Homo sapiens: one gene and its partner. The protein of the gene in region 1 purifies or fractionates together with the protein of each later gene. This does not show direct contact. Each region holds a gene or a part of one and is shown in the gene's direction. Other genes may lie near its edges.

What was found. The genes of interacting proteins can lie anywhere in the genome.
Region 2: the proteins of GALNT16 (region 1) and SLC39A11 purify together in Homo sapiens (co-immunoprecipitation; 4 studies listed by BioGRID and IntAct, with this or other methods). This does not show direct contact.

What each region holds. Positions count from the first base shown.
Region 1 is NC_000014.9:69,319,157-69,326,176, forward strand, and holds part of GALNT16 (polypeptide N-acetylgalactosaminyltransferase 16), read left to right. Parts: intron 1-1,554; coding exon 1,555-1,712; intron 1,713-5,535; coding exon 5,536-5,634; intron 5,635-6,180; coding exon 6,181-6,248; intron 6,249-6,805; coding exon 6,806-6,871; intron 6,872-7,020. UniProt on the Homo sapiens protein: Catalyzes the initial reaction in O-linked oligosaccharide biosynthesis, the transfer of an N-acetyl-D-galactosamine residue to a serine or threonine residue on the protein receptor.
Region 2 is NC_000017.11:73,089,669-73,096,811, reverse strand, and holds the start of SLC39A11 (zinc transporter ZIP11), read left to right. Parts: upstream 1-4,123; 5' UTR 4,124-4,201; exon of another isoform or gene 4,202-4,317; intron 4,318-4,695; exon of another isoform or gene 4,696-4,988; intron 4,989-6,961; exon of another isoform or gene 6,962-7,098; intron 7,099-7,143. UniProt on the Homo sapiens protein: Zinc importer that regulates cytosolic zinc concentrations either via zinc influx from the extracellular compartment or efflux from intracellular organelles such as Golgi apparatus. May transport copper ions as well.

The sequences.
Region 1 (7,020 bases):
TGCCCTCAGGGAACCTCCAACTGGCTCCTAGGACAGGAGGCAACCCTAGAAGGTAGTATCGCTACAGAGTGGCAGCAGTTCAGGAGATCAGAGCTCCCCGGACCCTGGGCATGCCTGTCCAGTGAGGTCGGGGGCTAGGCTCTCAGGGGAACATAGAGGCCCTGAGCTGCTGGTGACAGTCCCAGTGTCATTCCACACAGCGATCCACTCCCCACAGGTCTAGCTGCCTTGCTGGGACCATCCCTCTAGGACTAGGCCTGTGATAGCATCCTCATGCAAGAGTTTTGTGAGTGGGCAATTCTCACCCTCCTTTCTGCTTCCTCTGGGGCCCCAGCTTCAGCCCAGGGCTGATGGTTGGGCGGAAAGTTGGAGTTGGGATGTACCCACAGTTGATGATATTTCATGGCACTCTGGAGAACATCCAGCCAGCAGTTTGGTTCAAGTAATGAGATGTCAGGGTGCTTGCATCCATCTGTTAATTTCAGATGTGTCCTTCCCCAGTGTCTGTTGCTGGAGACTCTGGGAGCACAGGGTAGGGTGTGGCCATGAAGGAACGGGATGGGCAATGGCATCTGCCATCCATCACTGCCCAGCACTTAGTGCCTGGGGACCAGTGGATCTTACAGGGGCCATTTCAGGAGCAAGCAAAAGTCCCAGAGAAGATGCATCACTGTCTGAGCACTTGAGTTCTGGTAGCTCTGGCATCAGCCTGCAGGGGTTTGCTGTCCTTACAGGTAGTTCTTTATGCAGCAGATTGTCCAAGCCCTGGTGTTTTACTGATCGGGTGCCTCATATAATGCCTAGGCCAGGGCTAGGCCCAAGTTTCTGCCTAGGAGACTGTCAATCTGCAGGCGCTTGGCAGCATCCATTCTGGTTTGTAGTCCCCTCAGGACACCTTGCCTTAGAGGTCTGGTGCACTCCAGGACTCACCCCCCCAATATCCCGCAAAGAACATTGGTTAAGAGCATGGGCTTTGGAGTCGGAATGACCAGTTTAAATCCAGACCTTGTGACTTAATAGCTCTGACCCTGGATGCTTTTTAAAAAGCCTCTTGATGGCCGGGCGCGGTGGCGCATGCCTGTAATCCCAGCACTTTGGGAGGCTGAGGTGGGTGGATCACTTGAGGTCAGGAGTTCAAGGCCAGCCTAGCCAACACCACGAAACTCCACCTCTACCAAAACTATGAAAATTAGCTAGGCGTGGTGGTGCGCACCTGTAATCTCAGCTACTTGGGAGGCTGAGACAGGAGAATCGCTTCAACCTGGGAGGCAGAGGTTGCAGTGAGCCAAGATCTGCACTCCAGCCTGGGTGACAGAATAAGACCCTGTGTCAAAAAAAAGAAAAAAAAAAGAAAAAAAGAAAAAAAAAGAAACCCTCTTGAGCCTCAGTTTTCTCTTCTGTACAGTGGGGGAGATAATGGTCTCCTCCTCATAGAGTTGGCGTAAGGCACAAATGAGGCCACGTGGCTGGCTCCCGCCTGGTGTGTGCTGAGCACTCGCCAAGCAGTGGGGTCCTCCTGCCTGTGGTCCTCTCTGATGCTGACCTTCATCTCAGGTGACAGGAACTCCCTCGAAAGGCTTTGATGAGAAGGCCTACCTGTCGGCCAAGCAGCTGAAGGCTGGAGAGGACCCCTACAGACAGCACGCCTTCAACCAGCTGGAGAGTGACAAGCTGAGCCCAGACCGGCCCATCCGGGACACCCGCCATTACAGGTACGGCCTCCATCGTGTCAGTGGAGGAAGAAAGACTGAGAGAAAGCCAACATTGTTTAGTTTGTCTTCTTTTACGTGTATCTAAGAAATGAGGATGATTTCCTCAGACTGTGTCCAGTGATTTAGACATTCAAAAACCCTCACCCTCTGTTGCTGGTTTACCTGGCCTACTGAGGCCCTGCCAAGACCAAGGAAACCGCTCCGCTGGGGCCAAGGAGGCCCCAAGGCACTTCAGTCTGGCGCCCCAGCAAAAGTGACCTGGGAGGGGACCAAAGGAGGTCCGTGGCAGTGGGTGAGCCAGGCGCTCTTGGGGCCTTACTGGTGGTGCCTAAAGTGGAGAGAGTCACAGCCCTGCACATTGCAAACAGTGGGGTGCTGTGGCCCACCCCATTGACCTCCCTTTCCTGCACCACAGCTCCACCTCCTCAGCAACTCCCAGAAATGCTTCCTAGTCTTGTTCTTAGTTCTCTCAGTATGGTGAGGTGGGAGAGGCCTTAGACCAGGACCAAGGAAGCCTCCACTCTCATCCCAGCTCAGTGTGCGTGACCGGCCTTAAGCAAGGCATTAGCCCCTCTCTGGGTCTATGCCCTTGTGTGTTCTGTCTAGAGGGTGAAAGTCACCATCTCCAGTCTTTCCTCTTCCTGCCGTCACCTGCACGAACAGTCTGAGTTCCTGATGCTGAAGCACCACCCCCCGCTCCCCATGACCTGGCCTTACCCACCTTTCCCCCAGCACTTGATGGTCCTGCAGTCCCAGATTCCTCCCTCCTTCCTTCCTTGCTTTCACACATGCTGTTTCCTCTGCCTAAACGCACCTCCTCCGCCCCACCTACCCTTTGAGCTACTTGGCTCACTTCGAGGACACTTGGCTCACTGTCCTCTCCTCCATGGAAGGCTCCTTCCCAACCCGGGCTAGGTTGGGCCCCTCTTCTGTGCTCTGTGCAGACATCTCACAGAATGGCCAGGGCGCTGTTGGAGCTGACTCACGGCTGTGCCTGCAGCTGTGTGCTCAAAGCTAGGCTGGGCCTCCGTCTGGTCCTGGCTTGAGGGTAGCAACAATGACTTGGATCAAGGTTGCTTTTACTTCTGAAGCAGCTACTCCACAGCACAAAGGGTATAGGTGAGGTGAGGGTGCGAGAGGGCCTGGTTCTAGCACCTTCCTTGTCACTCACAGATGCATGCCTGAAGTCCAGGGTGCTTGGTGGCCTGTGCAAGGTGAGATGAACACAGGGCTGGGGGAGCCCCAGACCTTGGCCTTGCTGTCCTGTAACGCCAGCACTGTCAGCCTCCAGAAACCACTCATGCAGCCAAGTAAGGCAGTACTCCTGCTTCGCGGCAAGGACACCACCAGGCCTGCTGGCTGTTTCTGGGCCTCAGAAGTTCTTTCTCACCCAGTCCTGGGCAGCATCCCCTCCTGTCTGCCTGTGCTGCAGAAGAGGTTACATCCACATAGCTCCACTTAGAGACCTTTCATGGGCAGCCCTAGCCATGGCTGACCTAGTCCCAGGGTCTAGAGGATCTGTTGGCCCCAATCTGTGAATTGAGGGCTTGCCCTGGATAATCTCTGTTCACCCCCCAGCTTACCTGACTCTGAACCGCCTCAGGTGCTCACTGAGAAACTTAAAGGGGGAATTGCCCTGGGGGCTATGTACATTTTTAAATGAGACGCTTTAAATCCAGGGTAGTGGTGGGTTGATGAGGTGCCACATGCTGCTGCTGGGCCCTGTCAGAAAGCTGAGGTGGGCCAGGCACGGTGGCTCACACCTGTAATCCCAGCACTTTGGGAGGCTGAGGTGGGTGGATCATTTGAGGTCAGGAGTTCAAGACCAGCCTGCCTATCATGGTGAAACCCTGTCTCTACTAAAATACAAAAATTAGCTGGGTGTGGTGGTGGGCACCTGTAATCTCAGCTACTCGGGAGGCTAAGGCAGGAGAATCTCTTGAACCTGGGAGGCAGAGGTTGCAGTGAGCCAAGATCGCAGTACCGTACTCCAGCCTGGGTGCCAGAGTAAGGCTCCGTCTCAAAAAAGAAAAAAGAAAGCTGAGGTGGCTCACGGGGTGTGTGTGTGTGTGTGTGTGTGTGTGTGTGTGTGTGTGTGTGTGTGTGTGTGTGTGCGCGCGCACGCGCGCACGCATGCACACGTGTAGGGAAGCAAAGGACGTGCTGGCTTTAGTGGGCAGGCCTCCTGCCATGGTGGGGCCAGTTTGCTGGTAGAAGCTGCTCTTCCTTGCAGCCCTGCAGGCTGTAGTGTCCGCTGGACTCCAAATTGTCAGGTTCATTTCTGGTCCAGCCTCAATCTAGGGAGCCCGCTCCAGGGGAGCAAAGGGACATAAACCACATAAGACAGGCCGAGGAGGATCACAGAGAAAACCCCATCAGCTCCAAACTCAAAACTCAGGGCTGGGACAAACCCCTTTAGAGGCTCCTGGCTCCTGGGAGCCAGATAAACCCCCATGCTAAGTAACATCAATCCCAGAGGCATGCATGCCGAAAGGGCTGGAGGGAGCCGGTGGGGAGGTCAAGTTCACCCTTCAGATGGGGTGTGGGTGGGTTTGCCCCCTTCAGGGAGACGTCACTGTCCCGATTCCCTCCTTTCTGGGCACCGGATGGTTGGGGGATCAGGACAGAGGACTGGGGCCCTGGAGGTCAGCACTGGGAGGGTGCACACTTAGGAGGTATTTGCTGCTCCCAGCACACCCCAGCTCAGCCGGCCAAGCTCACTCCCTCCCCCACAATTCATAGGCCCTTGAACAGCATGGTTTCTCAAGGGGTAGAAGGCAAATTTCCCTCCGCCACCACTACCCTACACCCCCTCTCAAGGAGAATTATTGCACAGCCTCTCAAGATTTCCCCCAGGGGGGTCCCAGGCTAGTGGGACTCCTGCCTGTCTGACCTGGTCTGCTCTGCAGGGCAGGAAACAGGCCTGGGAATTCGGGCTGTAAGCTGCTGTCAGTAGAATGAATGCCACAATGAAAAAACGGGCACTGGTGGAATAGTCAGAGAGCAATTGTAATAAAGAAGATTGCTATGAAAACCAGCAACGGAGGCCACCTTCCAGCACCCCAGGAGCTCAAATAAATGCATACGCAGAAACAACAGGGATGAAGTCTGGCAGGAATGAATTGTTTTCACTCCCTTTCTAGAGGAGAGGGAGCCAGTAGGCCAGAAAATGTGGTGTCTATGGATGGCTGGGGAGGGAGGAAGTGACGGGATAGGCCTTTGGTGTCTTAACAGAGGCTTGTTTCCTCCAGGGGACCCAGTACCCTGGGAGGAGTGAGACTGCTCCCCAGCTTGTTGTCTGCAGCAGGGCTGTCAGTGTTGGGCAGTGACAGGGAGGAATTCCCTGGCAGCCAGGGTAGGGGTGATTCCTCTGCAGATTCTACCAAATGTCCTGAGCTGGGAAGAGAGAAGGAAGAAACTCTAGGGTATCAGGACAAACAGAGGTAGTTTTCCCTCTCGCACATACCCCCCACCATACGACAGAGTGTGGTCAGGGCTGTATCCTGGGGCCTGGTGCAGTATCTGTATATACTAGGGAGCCCCCTCTGGGGGCTCTGAGATCTCTGGTAAAGAGCCCCCAGGCCTTGGAAGGTCTCCCAACCTGCTGCTTCCCTCCCAGGACCCCAGGATGGGTGGCATCGGGGTTCTGGGCCAGTGTGGGATGCAGCATGGGGGTGGAGGCGCGGGGCCTCTGGCCTGGCTGTTGGTGTGCCTTCTCTGCCTGGCAGAAGTATTCTCAGGCACAAGACTGGACAAAGAAAAACATTGACCTGCCCTGAGGATGCCCTCATGGCTGGCTCTGACCTCTGTGCTCCCTTCTCAGCTGCCCATCTGTGTCCTACTCCTCGGACCTGCCAGCCACCAGCGTCATCATCACCTTCCACAATGAGGCCCGTTCCACCCTGCTGCGCACAGTGAAGAGGTAAGTCCAGCCATGGGACTCTCATCTCAGTGGTGCTGGCAGGGGAGGACATTGGGATTGGGCGCTGTGGCCAGACAGCTTGAAGCCCAGCAGGTGCTGGAGGCTGAGTCCTGTACTTCTGAGAGGCTGAGACTGGTGAATCAGGGCCAGGAAGACCCCAGAAGTCAAACTGTTAGAGGAATGCGACAGTCAAACACCAGGTCAGATGTCCAGGACAAGGGCAGAAATGCAGGTGTCAGGAGCTGAGGGAGGCCGGGCTAGACAGGAGGCCTCAGGAGGGTGATGGAAGCCCAGCAGTGTCTGTCAGTGTCAGAGAGAGGTGGATTGGAGGTGGATTCTTCCTGCTAAGCCTGGGCTTGTGGTCAAGTTGAACTCCCATCTCCCCATTTCCTCAATGAACTTAGACAAGAATAGGATTCAGGTAGGAGCGCCCAGCATGCTGGCCCTGGAGCTGGGCGGCTGGGGAGTCCCACGGCCCCGGGAGTGGTAAAAATGGGAGGTGGTTCCTAAATCCAGGCTCTTTCTCTGTTTCCACTGCTACTGTAGTGTCCTGAACCGAACTCCTGCCAACTTGATCCAGGAGATCATTTTAGTGGATGACTTCAGCTCAGATCGTGAGTAGTCACCTTCCTTTTTGCAGCCCTCCATTCCGCCCTCGTCCCTGTTTCCCCAGAACACCAAGGCAAGCACCCTGAGGTTGTCCTGACCATCGCAGACACCTTTCTGCCCCCAGCAGGGATCCTGTCTTTTCTAGGACCCCTCCCTGGTCCTGTTCCCTGGTGTCAAAGGAGGGGAAAGAAGGGTGGGTGTTGCTTTGGATGGGACTCTAGTGAGATGATATTGTTTTTAAAAAGTAAAGAAAATCAACAGCATCCTTCATTATTACAACTGCCAAATGCAGATGATAGCTGGGCTGGTAGCCACCCCCAAGCGTGCTTTCTAGTGCTCCCTGAGGTGGAGTGGAGTACTGCCATAGGTACAGGCACTCCTCAGTCTGGCCTGAGAGTGGGGCAGGGCAACCCTTCGGCCAGTAGTGATGACCATACCTCTTCCCAATCCCCATCCCCAACCCTTTCCTGGGCTTAGTATGGGGCAATTTTCATGGCAGCCAAACCACTAGTGGCCTGATGCCCATGTCTAAATGAGCTTGCCTTCCTCTTTGCATCCTCAGCGGAAGACTGTCTACTCCTGACCAGGATCCCCAAGGTCAAGTGCCTGCGCAATGATCGGCGGGAAGGTGAGTCCTTGCACCCTGGGTCCCACCAAGGGCCCATCTTGGTGTCATCCTGTGCACTTCCCCACTCTCTCTTGGTGCCGTGGCACACCAAGCCAACATGGTCCTGCTGCATTCCTGATGGCTGAGACCAGGTTCTGCAGAAGACTCTC
Region 2 (7,143 bases), on another chromosome or scaffold:
ATGGAGTTTTGCTCTTGTCGTCTAGGCTGGAGCACAATGGCATGATCTCGGCTCACTGCGACCTCCGTCTCCCAGGTTCAAGCGATTCTCCTGCCTCAGCATCCCGAGTAGCTAGGCTTACAGGCGCCTGCCACCATGGCCAGCTTATTTTTGTATTTTTAGTAGAGATGGGGTTTCACCATGTTGGCCAGGCTGATCTCGAACTCCTGACCTCACGTGATCCACCCACCTCAGCCTCCCGAAGTTTTGGGATTACAGACGTGAGCCACCGCACCTGGCCCAGGAAACATTTTCTTCTGGCCAATACTCTGGCCCTTTTGACTGTAAGGAAGTATGTGAAAGGGGGCAGTTTGCATGTTTGCGGAGTGGGCATATGTGTGGGAGTTTATTGAGAAAGATGGGGAAATGGTAAGATTTGTCTCCTGGGGGTTAGCACCCCTCCCGCTTATGGGCTTGGTGTGGTTTAAAGAAAGTGAGATGCAGAAATGCTGATCAAGGTGGCTCTGGGTCTCATCCTGTGAGCCCTGAATGCCCCATGCAGGAAGGGCACCATCTCAGGAGTCAGCTGGGCTTGGTGTCCCACACTGCCCCATGGACCTTGGGTCACTCCAGAGCTTTCCTGAGCCTCAATTTCCTTATCTGTAGAATGGGGATAATGATACCTTCCCCTCAGAGTTGTGAGTTTTACATAAGAAGAGGATATAAAGATAAAGTGGCCCAGGTTGGGCATTCAACAAATGTTAGTTGCTTCCCCACTTTTCCTTTCCCACATCAAGTTTACCTATGCATTGCATGCAAGCATCTCTTGAGGACATGCTATAATATGAGGTGCTATCCTGGCTGGGATGAGGGGAAGAAGCTCAGTAAGGAGCTTGATTCTAATCCTGGGTCTGTATGCCGAATATAGCAGTGAAGTTAGATCCTACAGTATAAGACAGAAGGAGGCAAGTGCCTTAGAATCCAGATGGAGTTCTATGGGACCTTAGAGGATAGAGACTCGATTTGTAACCAGGGCTGGGACAGGTGGGAGATGAGGTCAGATGGGGTGCCCAAGGAGAATGCATTAAACCTGGGTCTTGCAGGATGGTGGGGCTTAGATTTGGGAGGCGAAGGGCAGTTCAGCAGAAATGGTATAAGGGAGATAGGAGTGGCAGGGAGGGAAGGCTGTGTGGAGGACAGCGAGCTGTCCAGCCTGGCTTGGCCAGAGGGCACAGGGAGGAGAACCCTGGGAGACAGACTTGAGAACGTTTAGTTGGAATCATACCACAGCAAAACTCAAATTCCAGGCTGAAGCATTTGAACTTTATGCCAAAGGCACTGGGGAGCTATCGGAGCTTTTTGAGCAGGAGAGTGTGATGTGCTGTGCTTTAGGCAGGCTGATCTTGGCGGTGCTACATGGAACAGACTAGACAGGGTGGAGTGGAAGGAGGTGACTCCATGACCTAGATGAGGGATGGGCAGGTTGAATCCTCACAGCAGCAGTGAGAAAGGAGAGAAAGGATTGGGCAGGAGAGGCACTTTGTGGATCGTTGTAAACATTTCTGTTTATTTTTCATTATAAAGAATTTAAGCGGCTGGGCGCAGTGTCTCACTCCTGTAATCCTAGCATTTTGGGAGGCTGAGGCAGGTGGATTGCTTGAGCTCAGGAGGTTGAGACCAGCCTGGCCAACATGGCAAAACCCCGTCTCTACTAAAAATACAAAAAATTAGCTGGGTGTGGTGGCACGCACCTGTAGTCCCAGCTAATTGGGAGGCCAGCTGAGGCAGGAGAATCACTTGAACCTGGGAGGTGGAGGGTGCAGCGAGCCGAGATTGCACCACTGCACTCCAGCCTGGGTGACAGGGCGAGACTCCGTCTCAAAAAAAAAGAAAAGAATTTAAGCATCCACAAAAGTAGAAACAGAAACATTTAATGAACCTCTACGTGCCCGTTCCCCAGGTTCAACAATGGTTAATTTTTTATTTTTAAGAGACAGGGTCTTTCACTGGAGTGCAGTGGCACCATTACGGCTCACTGCAGCCTCAAACTCCTGGGCTCAAGTGATCCTCCCCACTCAGCCTCCCTAGTAGCTGGGACTACAGGCCCAGCTACCATCTGCCACCATGTCCAGCTACTTTTTAAAAACTTTTTGTAGCGACGAGATCTTGCTTTTTTGCCCAGGCCGGTCTCAAACTCTTGGGCTCAAACAATCTGCCCACCTTGTCCTCCCAAAGTGCTGGGATTACAGGTGTGAACCACCATGCCCAGCCTAAGAATGGTTAATTCATGGCCAATTTTGTTTAATCTCTACTCCATCCACTTTTCTCTTCCATCATATTTTGAAGTGAGTCTAAGATATTGTGTCATTTTATGGCTATTGCAGCGTGCAGGAAGAGGTATGACATTTTGGAAGATGAGTTGATGGGCCGTGCCACATGGGTATTGTGTCTCTGTGTGCCTGTACATACTCTCTTATGTGGAATTGCAATGGCTGATTTGACTCTTCCAAGTTGGGGGTCTTTTAAGGGCAAAGACCACCCTCCAGTGGCCAGGCTGTCTTCTCCTCCCCATGGAGTGCTTGGTATATGGTGCGACCGTCAGTGTGAACAACCTAGTTCCACTGGAAGAAAGAGGCCTGTTATTGGACCCTTTGGGCTATGGCCATCGAGACCACGGGTAGCTTTTCTGCTCAGGTCACGCTCTGATATGTTGTCAAATAAAACACAGGACACTCAGCTGGGTTTCAGTTTCAGATCAACAACAAATATGCCTGTAACATAAGTATGTCCCACACATTGCCCGGGGCATATTTATAGTAATAAATGACGTTATTTTTCTGAAATTCAAATTTAATCAGGCTTTTTTTTTTTTTTTTGAGATGGAGTTTTGCTCTGTTGCCCAGGCTGGAGTGCAGTGGCGTGATCTTGGCTCACTGCAAGCTCGGCCTCTCGGGTTCACGCCATTCTCCTGCCTCAGACTCCCGAGTAGCTGGGACTACAGGCGCCTGCCACCACGCCCAGCTAATTTTTTGTATTTTTAGTAGAGACGGGGTTTCACCGTATTAGCCAGGATGGTCTCGATCTCCAGACGTTGTGATCTGCCCGCCTCGGCCTCCCAAAGTGCTGGGATTATAGGCGTGAGCCACAGCGCCCAGCCCAGGCATCTTGTTTCTATCTATTTATTTATTTTGTTTTGTTTTTGGCTAAATCTAGTCAATCCTATCCTCTGGTCTTTTCACAGAAATCCTGCAGATCAAAGCCTTTGACCTAGGGCAGTGCTTTTCAAAGGGTGGTCCCAGGACAGCAGCATCAGCAACTCCTAGCTCAAAACAAGATCTCAGGCCAGGCGCGGTGGCTCATGCCTATAATCCAGCACTTTGGGAGGCCCACACGAGTGGATCATTTGAGGTCAGGGGTTCGAGGCCAGCCTGGGCAACGTGGTGAAACCCCGTCCCTACTAAAAAAAAAAAAAAAAAAAAAAAAAAACAAAAATTAGCGGGGCTTGGCAGCATGCACCTGTGATCCCAGCTACTCGGGAGGCTGAAGCAGGAGAATCGCTTGAACATAGGAGGCAGAGGCTGCAATCACCCGAGATTGGGCCACGGCACTCCAGCCTGGGCGAAAGAGCGAGACTCCATCTCAAAAAAACAAAAGCAAAAACAAAAAAATCCCAAAATGTCAGCCCCACCCAGAATGACGGAACCAGAGCCTCTGGGGGTGCTGGCATTTTGTGTTTGACCCCCTCCAGTGATTCTTTTGAGGGTCATTGACTGGAGAATGATGCCGATGCCATCACATTACCCGCCCCCAGCCTCTCCCGCAACACACACACAGCACATCCTGCTCTGCTGCGCACCCAGTGGCATGGACCTGGCTGCCAAAGGTGTAGAAGCATAAGTAACATCAGGGGTGTTACAAAGGGCTCTTTCCTTGGGTGTTTGTAGCTTCCCTTAGGGCTGCAGTCACTCGCAGACTGCTGGGCTCTTGGCCTCAGGGCTCTGTTCTGCCCGCCCAGATCTGTTCCTGAGCCTGCAGACGGCTGTGAACCAGAGAATCTATTCTTCAGGCGGGAGTTGCCAGTTGCGGCCAAGGGGGCGGGGCCCGGAGGCGGGAGGGCCACGTGTGCGGGAGGGAAGCAGGAAGTGACTGCGGGAGTGGAGCCGGCGAGAGAGTGGCAGCGGGGGCTGATGGAAGTGCAGTGGGGGCTGGAGAGGGCACCCTAGTGAGTTGGCTTTTCTCTCCTTCGGTGCCTTTGGTTGGGCTCGAGGCCCGGGGTCGGAGGCCATCAGGACAAGAGTGTGGGACTTGGAAGGGCAGCCACCTGGAGCTTGGAAGGGGGTACGCCTGGAGAGAGGAGGGGTTTGGAGGAGAAATTGGAGGCTTTGGCAGGTGTCGGGGCGGGGTGGGAGGGTGAGGGGCGGTGGGAAGGAAGTCCCCGGACCCCGGCTATGTCCCTCTCCAGGGTGATCTGGAAGGCAATGACATGCCTTCCTTTTACAGTCCTAACCCAAATCCTCTTCGTTCGTCCCTTCCTAGGCGGTGTGTGGGGGTACCCGGGATTCCTGGGAGCAGAGGCAGCTACAAATCCAGCTGCTCCCAGGCCCCTCCCACTTGCTCTGGCTGTTAGCTGGACCTCTGGAACTTGACTGGGAATCTGGTTAACTTGCAGCAGGTCTGGGTGGGGCGTGACAGTGTGCATTTCTAACTAATTCCCAGGTTGGGTGGTCCGCGGACCACGCTTTGAGTAGCGAGGCATTAGAGAACTTTTCCACAGTCCTCTCCGCCCAGACCTGAATCCTTCTGCTGGATTCCCCCTCGTGGAGTTAGGGCATGTGTGTGCAGCTCCACTAAGGCCCAGCAGCCCTAGTGCTGTTTCCACTTCTGCAACTTCACCAGCCTCTTGAACTGACTCTTGGAAGCGGAACAACAGGTTTAAAAGGGGGAGAAAGGAAATAAAGAAAACAAACCTGTATCAATCAGCCGGGAATGCCCATGTGCTGCTGTGGCAGGTGTGTACAAGTCTACAGGCTGTTGGCATGTTAAAAGTTGGAACGGTCAGAGAATGATTCTCCCTGCTGCTAACGAATCAGGGTTGATGGAATTAATATCCCCATCGTGAGGAATTCTGAGCCCCATTGTGTAAGCTGTGATGGAGATGCTGTGTCCTAAAGTTGTTACTGGTCTGCCGGTTAGAGAAAACTTCTTGTTCTCTTGGGACTCTGCCAGAAACTTTTTCTTCTCTTGAGACTCTGCAGAAAACTTTCTGTTCTTTTGGGACTCTTCTTTGCTCTTGCCAATCCCACATGGGGCAGGAGAACTCATTTTCTAAGCTCTTGGTATTGTAGAAGTTTTACCAGTTTTATTTATTTATTTATTTTTATTTTTTTTTGAGACAGAGCCTTGCTCTGTCACCCGGACTGGAGTGCAGTGGCGCGATCTCGGCTCACTGCAACCTCCGCCTCCCGGGTTCAAGCGATTACTCCTGCCTCAGCCTCCCGAGTAGCTGGGACTACAGGCACTGGGACTACAGGCACACACCACGACGCCCAAGTAATTTTTGTGTTTTTAGTAGAGATGGGGTTTCACCGTGTTGGCCAGGCTGGTCTCGAACTCCTGACCTCAGGTGATCTGCCCGTCTTGGCCTCCCAAGGTGCTGGGATTACAGGCATGAGCCACTGCGCCTGGCCAAGTTTTACCAGTTTTAATCTTTTGCTTTCCACAGTTTAATGTGCATAAGAATCCCCCATGGAATTCCACAAAATGCAGACCCTGATTCAGAAAGTCTGGGGTGAGACCTGAGTTTCTGCATTCCTAACTAGCTCCCAAGCCGGACCAGTGCTGCTGGTTCTCTGACCACCCTTGTAGCGAGGATTTAAAACAGCAAATAGAGAAGAAACTTCTCCGAGGGGCACTGGGCTTGCATTGCCCGTGATCAATGCTGCTCCTGTTGGGATGGAAAGGATGGTGGCCTCGGTCTTCCCTCTGTGTCCCTTTTTCTTACTCAGGAGGGTGCTCAGATATACATGGGGACAGGCTTAGACGGGTGTTTCCCTATCCCACTAACCACCAGGAACACCCACGAGCTCCCTCTGTTCTGTTCACCAGCCCACAAGATCCACATTGACTTTGGCCTGTTGGCAAATGTAAATTGTTTGCTCTCTTCTGTAGCTGTCAAGAGGCACATTCAAATACAGGAAAGAAAGGTGTTTTTGTTATGCCCTGTCTTGGATGATAAGTACTAAGAGGATGATCCCTTTGTGCTGTTCTTTGTAAATGCTGTTTGAAATTTTGTCCACAGCAACTCGGAATAGATGATTGGTGTAATGGTCCAGATGGCTTGGTTTAAAAACAAAGACCAACCCCTCTTTTTAGGGTGGCTTAGCAAGATGACGGATGTAAAGGGTAGTAGTTTTTTGAAAATGATTTTTTTTTTCTTTAATTGGCGTGGTCACAGTTTTCACAGTTGGTGCAGTTCGTTTAGAGTGCGGGAACTAGAGTCTGATTCCATAGATGCTATTTATCTCAGAGTTTCTGGCACAGGGGCTGAGCCAGGGCTCACCTGGGCTCACCTGGACCTATACCCTTCCTAGGTTTGAGCCTGGGTGTGTTGCTGAGCCGCTTGGCATAAGGGCTGCGTCCACACTCTGCCATGGTTTCCTTCCAGGGTCAATCGAGGCAGCGTCTTCAGCTCTTGATCTGCAGGCTCAGGGCTGCTGGCTCCTCACAGAGCACCGGGAACTGGCAGGGCTGAGCCCAGTGTGGTTGTGTCCAGCCAGCCCTCTGGGTGCTGGCAGACCATCAGGGAGATGAATGAGGCTTTGATATGAGGCCCTGAGCCCAGTGTTTGTGTACCAGAACACAGGGCTTTTCAACAAATGGGTTTCTCTGCCTTGTAACTTTCCACAGGGAGAGATCTGATTGTCATCTCAGATCCAGAATTTTAAGCATGTTAAAGTCTGGAGGAGGTTCTCTGGACTGAAATGAGAGGGAGTGGTACTTCCCTTCCTTTCCTTGGTGGGCGGTGGTGTAACTTCAGCTTCAGCAGCAGGGTGCTGAGTTGACCAGGGGACATTCCATTCCTGGGTCCTTTTGCTTGTCCTTGCTGACTGTCCTGTGCAGGTAAGCTGGCCCTTTTCCATCCAGCACATATTTTTCAGGGGTTAC